Linked DNA regions of Homo sapiens. The protein of the gene in region 1 purifies or fractionates together with the protein of each later gene. This does not show direct contact. Each region holds a gene or a part of one and is shown in the gene's direction. Other genes may lie near its edges.

The links.
Region 2: the proteins of KCTD1 (region 1) and TFAP2B purify together in Homo sapiens (affinity purification with western blotting, with the first as the bait; one study listed by BioGRID). This does not show direct contact.

What each region holds. Positions count from the first base shown.
Region 1 is NC_000018.10:26,545,664-26,550,212, reverse strand, and holds the start of KCTD1 (BTB/POZ domain-containing protein KCTD1), read left to right. Parts: upstream 1-1,659; 5' UTR 1,660-1,676; coding exon 1,677-3,485; intron 3,486-4,549. UniProt on the Homo sapiens protein: May repress the transcriptional activity of AP-2 family members, including TFAP2A, TFAP2B and TFAP2C to various extent.
Region 2 is NC_000006.12:50,835,726-50,839,532, forward strand, and holds part of TFAP2B (transcription factor AP-2-beta), read left to right. Parts: intron 1-335; coding exon 336-555; intron 556-2,249; coding exon 2,250-2,368; intron 2,369-3,807.

The sequences.
Region 1 (4,549 bases):
TCGGACTTGGAGGTAAATTCGAGGACGCACCCGAGGAGCAGGCGAGGCTGCCTCCCAGCAGGACGGCCTGGCACCGGGGCGCACTGCTGGGGACCTGACTCCCTCGTGTCCCCTCACCCCAGGGACTCGCAGCTGGCCCGCGCGCCAGGGTACACACGGGCTGCGGGAGAAGGTGAAAGTTAGGATGCAGCACGAGCTCCGAGAGTGGCCTGGGCTGTGCCTCCTAAGAGAACAGCCGAGGTCCCCGGCGGCTCTGGGAAGCTGCCCCTGGGCCGGGAGAGCGGGAGGCGGCGACGCAAGGACGCGCCCGGAGCCTGGGCGCGCCGGGGGCGGGCGTTTGGCTGGAAGTGGGGCAGTGTCTCCTATGGGAAAGCGAGACCCGGCGAGCTCTTTGGCTGCTTTTCCAGTTTCCGAGGTGCCCGCCCCCGCGCGCCTGAGGCAGCGCAGCCCGGAGGGCGAACGAATGGCGGTTGGCAAACTTTGAGTGAGAGTGCGCTCCGGATCCGAATTGCCGAATTGTGGCTGCGGCAGGGTCGGCCGAGACACAAGTTCGCTTTTTCCGCCTGCCCGATGGGCCTTAGGGAGACTTCAGCTCCAGCTTGGTGGAGCGCCTCGCCCGAGGGAGTTGTGTCACTTTGCTCAGGGGCAGGGAGGGCGGCGCCCTGGGCGGGTGGGGAAGGGTCCCTGTGGCCCCTGGGGTCCCAAGCGCCTCTTCCCTCGTCTCCCCTCCCACCGGCCCCTCCCAGTCTTCTCTGCCTCGCTCCTTCCCGGGGCTGGCTGGACCGGCGCGGACTTGCCCCAGACCTACGGGGAGCGCCCCAGGTCTTTAATGACAGCTTAAATGTGGCTGTTGGAAAAGTCGAAAGGGATGTGGCTGACGTGGGGCGTGTTTCGCTCCTTTGCAAGAGTCGGAAAGGGAGTTGGGAGCCGCGCGGCTGGCCCCAGGCCCCCGCGCCTCGCCGCCAGCAAGTAGGTGGGGGAGCCGCCGCCGCCGCCAGCCCCATCCCGCTCCCAAGCCTCGCCCGCTGCGCCCTGGCCGCGGGCGCCGAGAGGGTGCGGGGCCTCGCCGTGCCTCCTCCACCCTGCTCATTAACCTGCCTGCTCCGCTCCGCTCCGGGCGGCCCCAGACACGGGTTTCCCGCGGCAGCACCCGCGGCCCGCCCGGCGCAGCCGCCGCCCCGACCCCCCGGCTCCGGGGGGCAATGAGGGGGCAGTGGAAGGGGCACTGCTCCTCGGGCATTACTTAGAGAAACGAGACCGTCCCGCCCTCTCGCCGGCCCTCCCTCTCTCCCGCCCGGGCCCGCGCAATTCTCCGCCAGAGGGTAAGTTGGGAGTGTTTCGCCCCCACCGACAGCTCTCCCTCCCTTTCCTTTTTTTTTTCCTTCAAAGTTTTCTTAGAAGTGGGAGCCGGGTGGGGGAGGAAGAAGGTCTGGTCAGCCTCCGTCCTTTACCCTATCTCTCCGGTCTAACTTGTCCCCCCCTCCCCCCTCCCCTCCATCCCCTGCGCGCCGCTGCCCCTCCGGAGCTGCGCTCGGGAATGACAATTGGAGCGCGGCTCCTTTAAGAGCCCGGCTTTGCCTCCCGGTAGCTGAAGGTCATTAAACACAAAAGCTCTCAGCGCTGCGGTCCAATATAGCGCATGCGCCCTGCCCGAGGACTGGCAGAGAGACGGCAATATGGCGAGAATGCCTGGCAGCGGGGACTGTAACACCAGCGCGGGCGGCAGCGCCAGCGCTGCCGCCGCCGCCGCCGAGAACAATGGGGAGCGGGGCGAGGGCGAGCGCGGCGCGGGGGGCCGCGGCCGCCGCCACAGCCGTCCGCACTACTGCAGCGCGGGCGAGGAGGAGGAGGAAGAGGAGGAGGAGGACGAGATCCAGGAGGTGCAGATAACGGGGGACGAGGAGGAGGAGGAGGACGGAGGTGGGGGGCTGGAGGAGGACGAGGAGGAGGAGGAAGAGGAGGAGATGGGGCTGGACTGGGACGAGCCCCTGGAGCCCGAGGACTCGGCCGGGGAGGAGCTGGAGCCCGAGCCGGTCCATATGATCAATATGGACCAGAGCGCCGCGCTGGAGCCCGAGGCGCCGCCGCGACTGCTGGCGCCCCGGGCCCGCGGTGGGCCGCCCGGGGACGGCTCCGAGCTGGACCCCGACGTGCTGCAGCGCCCCGAGCGGGCCCGGCTGAGCGAGAACACCCGGCTGGCCACCCGCTACGCCGTGCGCATCTTCCGGGAGTACCTGAGCGAGAAGGCGCAGAGCCCGGACTTCGAGACCATGGACAAGGGGGCGCTGTGCCGCGTGCTGCGCTCCTTCTATGCCGAGGCCCGCTCCAAAAGCGGCCAGCTCTACAGCAAGTCGTCGCTCATCAGCATCCGCAGCTCCCTCAACCGCTACCTCAATGAGCCCCCGTACTGCCGCACGCTCGACCTCACCAAGGACCCCGAGCTGCGCAGCGCCAACCTGACGCTGGCCGCGGTCATCCGCAAGCTCGAGGAGCAGGGCGCCGGGCCGGTGGTGCAGAAGCAAGCCATCACGCGCGCCGACCTGCGCAAGCTGTACACCTCCAGCGTCTTCAGCACCAACACGCCCTTCGGGCTGCTCAACAAGGTCTGGTTCGAGACGTGCATGTACTTCTGTACCCGCGGCCGCGAGAACCAGCGTGAGTTGGAGGAGGACTCTTTTGGGCTGGCCATGGACGAGGACGGTCGCAAGTTCGTCTACTTCAAGTCCCTCGGGCCCTACCACAAGTCGCGCTCGTCGTCGTGGAGCAAGAAGCGCGCCGAGAGCAGCGACGAGGAGAACTTGCCCCGCATGTATGAGACGGGCACCGAGTTCTGCCCCTACGCCAGCTTCGTCAAGTACCTGTCGAAACGCAACCCTCTCTGCAAGGCGTTCTTCCAGCGGCCCCGGGACCACTGCAGCGAGGGCGATGTGACCTGGTACGAGAACAAAGCCATCGGCAAGAACTTGCTAGGCACTCGGATGCAGATGCTCTCCAAGGCGGCCAAGCTCTCCAAGACCTACACCAACCACTGCATCGGCGCCGTCTCCATCGCCACGCTCAACAGCATCGCGGGCATTGGCACCAAGCTGGGCTCGCCCGCCCCGCAGGGCTGCTACGCCGAGGCTCTGAACGGGGCGGCACGGCACCACTCCCACCACCCCCCCACCCATCCCTCCCACCACCACCGCCCCCAGCCGCCCTCGCTGGGGAACACTTACATCCTCCCCAAAGACAGCCAGGTCGGGCCCGACGTGAAATCCGAGGCTGCGCCCAAGCGCGCCCTGTACGAGTCTGTGTTCGGGTCGGGGGAAATCTGCGGCCCCACTTCCCCCAAAAGACTTTGTATCCGCCCCTCGGAGCCTGTGGATGCGGTGGTGGTGGTTTCCGTGAAACACGACCCCCTGCCTCTTCTTCCAGAAGCCAATGGGCACAGAAGCACCAATTCTCCCACAATAGTTTCACCTGCTATTGTTTCCCCCACCCAGGTAACCAAACCAAACTCTATGCATGAAATGTTTCTTTGGTACCACTTCGGGACTAACTTTTGTGCTAATGCAGCTCTGGGTAGGGGGGAAGTTTTAAAAAGTAGGTAATGTACTGAATCGGATTTCGTTTCACCCTTAGAAGTTAACTCTCTTGGTGCTTTTTGGGAAACTTTACACCTAACCTTAAAAGATGTGAGAGAGGGCATGCTACCTAACAAATCACTGCTGTGCAGTAAGGCGAAAAACTTCAAAGTTCGCCGAACAAAAGGATTAGCTCACTCTTGCAGCCGCTCTTCATTGAATGCATGAGTTTTATAAGGCAAAGACTGCGAGAACACTGTAAATGTAAAGGAAGCAGTTACTTAAGACATATTTGAATCAAGTAACCCTTAAAAGACTCTATTACGTATTCGCCATGACCTTAGAAGGTAGAAAAACAGTTATAAATTATTGAAAAGAAAACGTGCCAATCCCACTTCCTGTAGCTTTTTTTTTTTTTTTTAAAGAAAAGGGGTGGAGAGTGGAGAGCCAGGCAGTTGAGTGCCAGTTTATACTGTAACATGTAGTTGAATGTAAACTGGCAGTGTGGGGTGCAATTTCCATAAACTAAAGTGGGAACGTGGTATCTGCAATTCCAGTCAGGCTACAAATTGGAGTATGGGCCTGTGGTGCCCAGCACTGTGGGCACTGAAACATTGCTGTCTCCCCCTAGCCCCACGGAGCTCACTATCTAGGGGGCAGATAATACCTACGAAGTAGATAATTAGAGTAAGAGTGCTATCCCAGCAGCTGAGTCAGCATGGACAAATCACTTCACTTCTCCTTGGCTTCACTATCCTCATCAAAGAGGAAGAAACTATTTCCACCCTAACATGATTTAAGTCTAAGCAGTGCCAAATTCTGGGTCGAGACTGGGGCCTCTAGTGTTAGATTCTTCTTTCCTTATTTTCCCCAAGGTAGTATTTTCGTGAGTATTATTAAAGTTATATTCATGTTTTGGACACTCTCTAGTCTAGGAGTCAGAAACCAGGGGTCTTTGGACACTGTGTTCTATTCTGCAGGCA
Region 2 (3,807 bases), on another chromosome or scaffold:
CACAGAGTTAGCACACGATGGAATAAGATTTGCCTGGTTCCCAGCACAGTCCAAACTCTGGGTTGTTTGATTTCTTGATTTGGGTAGTGAGCAGGACTGTAGCAAATGACACTCATATGTCTACACACGAAGTAAGTTTCCAGAGGAGGTATGGCTTTGCCATCTGTTTGTTTACAGCTCTCTGAACGCACTGCAGCCCCACTGGAATAAACACTTCCTCCCTCAGCTTTCCACTTGGTGTCTGTCCTGTGGCCTCACACAGAGACACATTCTATCAGCCGGTCATCAGGATCGAAACTTGGTCACCTTTATGGCAATTTTTTCTCTCTTTCTAGTTCCAGTTCCTCCCAAATCGGTGACTTCTCTAATGATGAATAAAGACGGCTTCCTGGGAGGCATGTCTGTCAACACCGGCGAGGTGTTTTGCTCCGTCCCAGGCCGTTTGTCTCTGCTCAGTTCAACTTCGAAGTACAAAGTAACTGTGGGAGAAGTTCAGAGACGGCTGTCGCCCCCTGAATGCCTCAATGCATCTCTCCTCGGCGGAGTCCTCAGAAGGTAACCCCACCACGAAAAACAAAAACAAAAACAAAAAAACAAACAAAAACCCACCAGTTTTTATTTATTGGACAGTGAGGAGAAGGTTCCAGCAAAACCCAATCTGCAGTCTGACGCAGTTGCCTAGCAACCGGGTGGCCGGAGCATTGCTTTCGCGCAGCGCTTGGGAGGATCCGCGGCCGCCACCTGCTCGCCCACAAACTCTAGTGTCCTTGCATCCAGGCCTGCCCGCGCCGCGCAAGTCCTACCGCAGATTTTGCCGCCCTGGGAACCTTTCACTTTCCTGGCCCTGCGCCTGGCGCCTCTCTTCCTGTCACCCCTAGGACATCTCAGGGGGCATTCTCCAGCCTGAGTACAACGCGGAACTAACAGCCCCCCAGCCCCCCCACAAAAAACCCCATAAGTTTCATGAAGCAACTCTCTTCATACCTTCAGTGTACTCTTTCTCTTTTATTGCATGTTTTAAATGCAGTTGGCACCCAGTGAAATTGGTCTTTCAACCTGCTGATGCACTGTAACCCAGTTTGATAAACTCTTTTTCTAAATTTGTGACATCCCTCTTTCAATAACACCACCACCAATAATAGCAATAATATCACTTTAGAAGTATTTATAGGTATTCCTGGGAGCCATTCAGGTGCTTCACAGTATTCCACAGCCCAGAGACTGACTCCTCCTCGTGGAAATGTGAGAGAATGTGGATTTTATCTTAAGATGTAATGCCTCCCTTGAAGTCCCTGCCAATGCCTGAACACTTTGGCAGTGTCCCTGATATGAAAGTGACTTTGTCTGAGACAAAACTTTCCAAGATGACCCCTTCTGGGGGTTGACAGTCCTTTTCTTTCCTAAAAGTGACTGTATGAATAGTACAGCAAAAGAGATTACAGTAACTGAGGATTTTTACTTGTACTTTTGTCCATACTTTAGCACATACAAGGAGAATCTTGGGAGAAATTAAGGGTGTGACCCAGGAACTTTCTCATTTTGAATCCTCTTCCTCTGCCCTCCTTTGATTCAGTTTTCAAGTGAGTGCTTTGAGCCTCAGAGTGTGGAAGTTTTCAATCACCCCCTGAACATTAAGCCTGTATATATAAATTTGCAGAGATGAAGTAAAATAATCAATATAAAGTGCTTATCACATAACTACACTTCCAAAAGTGTTAGTTTTACTGTTATTATGATCATCACCATTTCGATTTCAGTCTGCCCTCTCCTTTTAACATAACACCATATACAGCAACTCTTGACCCCTTCCTCACAAAGCCCACCTGTTGCAGCAAGTGCGCTCTCCTCTCTAAGCCACCTGGCTCTTATCCTCTTTTCAGCAAGGTTGTGCTTGCCCAGTTTCTGCTCACCTCACTAACTCCATGACAAGGAAGGAACATGCACGTGCATGTGCAGCTTCTACCTTCTCTAGACCCATAACCTACACCTAATTATTCCCATCTGGTATCCTTTTTTTTTCTTTTCTCACAAGATAAAAAAAGAACACTCAGTTAAAAAAAATTCTCTGTATTGCAGAAATTAAGCAAACCTCAGCAAACTATCAGCAAATAACCAAAAGGAAGGGGGAAAAATGTGCTAACCTCAAGTTAAAACCTCTTCAAGCTCCACTGGGCTTTAGATTGCTAAGTCTAAACTTTGTTTCAGGAACACTCTAAGGTTAATCAGAATGTTAATTCTTGCAATTTCAGAGCCAAATCGAAAAATGGGGGGAGATCTTTGCGAGAAAGGCTAGAAAAAATCGGTTTGAATTTACCCGCGGGCAGGCGCAAAGCAGCAAATGTCACGTTACTCACCTCCCTGGTGGAAGGTAAGCAAGACGTGTGGCCATTTCACGAAGTGGCTGAGCTTAACTGTCGGCTGGAGGCTGACATTTTACACATTTCATGATTAACTGGAAATCGTTGTGATTGTTGTGCTCTTATGAGCTGGATGTCAAGCGGCTTCTTGAGAGAGGTTCAAAGGTCCTTTTACTTAGAGGAAGCCAGCAGTTGTAGACAGGGCAAGGGAAGTATTTGAGAGTTCCTGTGCTCTGAAAAGTGCTCAGGTCCAGCCTCCAAGACAAAGCAGGGGTCACTCCTGCTGTCACGTGCAGGACATCCTCTATGTGAACTCTTGCAAGAGTAACTCTTTAAGCAATAATTCATTCTATACCCCTTCACCTTGCCAGATTTGAATTGTCAGTAGTAGAAAACACATTGCATTCATGACCCCTAATGGTTATTTTAAAACTTTTGTCACTCCTAGGGCCAAATCTGCAGATTACCTGGGACATGTTGTTATTGAAATATTGATAGCTTAGTAAGGCCAATGATAGCTAGGGGAAGATTGGGGAGGAGGGGTGAAGAAATATGTAGGGGAGTCAGGTATTATCTTCAATGTAGATTCATCAATTGTGAATTATAGGGTGATAATTGCAATAAGCACCTTATAATTTGCTCATCAGTTTGGGTTTGGGGATGATATTTATGGTATGTAATAAACAAAATCATCTACACAGTCCAGAACAAGAGGATCTGCAGTTGAATTTGTGGGAAATAATATGAAATACAGTCAGATGGTCCTAATGGAGGAAGATGCAGAATTTTCTCTAGCATCTAGCTTGTAGGTCTTGTGTTTTAATTCCATTTGTATGGGTGTAATATTATGATGCTCCTGTAGAGAGTTGGTTTTAGAAGATGGAATATTAAAATATTTAGGCAGCAACCATTAATCATCACAGTTACAGGCCTTATACTTGGCCATTTTTAAGGCAAAGTTGCTTGGCCTGAACACCCTCCAGAGGCAGGAATCACTGAAATTTCCAGACCACACTTACTAGTGGTTGACTCTTAGCCTGGAAGTTTCACATTTTACCCTTCAGGGAATTGCTAATATCATAGTCCTCATTTTGGAAAGCAATCAAGGTAACCTTAGCTCAAGACAGGGATTTCAGGGGAGAAGGGAGGAAACTGGAAACCCCACTAAAATTCCAATATTTGTTTGGCAGTTTTTGGTTTTGTGACTCCTTGTAAGCACCATGCCTGAAGTCTTTTGTTGTTATGATAATAATGATTAAAAGTAAGTCATCCTCCTTAAAAATAATGTAGCTATGGGGTATTTCAACATATCTGTTTTTCATGTATGGGATCTGTCCTTGAACCCCAAAAGGCTGTGTTTAAAGGGTAATAATGCTTTACTTGAAAGGGGCTTTCACATAAGCTGAGTAATACCTTAGATACTCCAGTTTTCTGTAGCTGCTGTGTCATC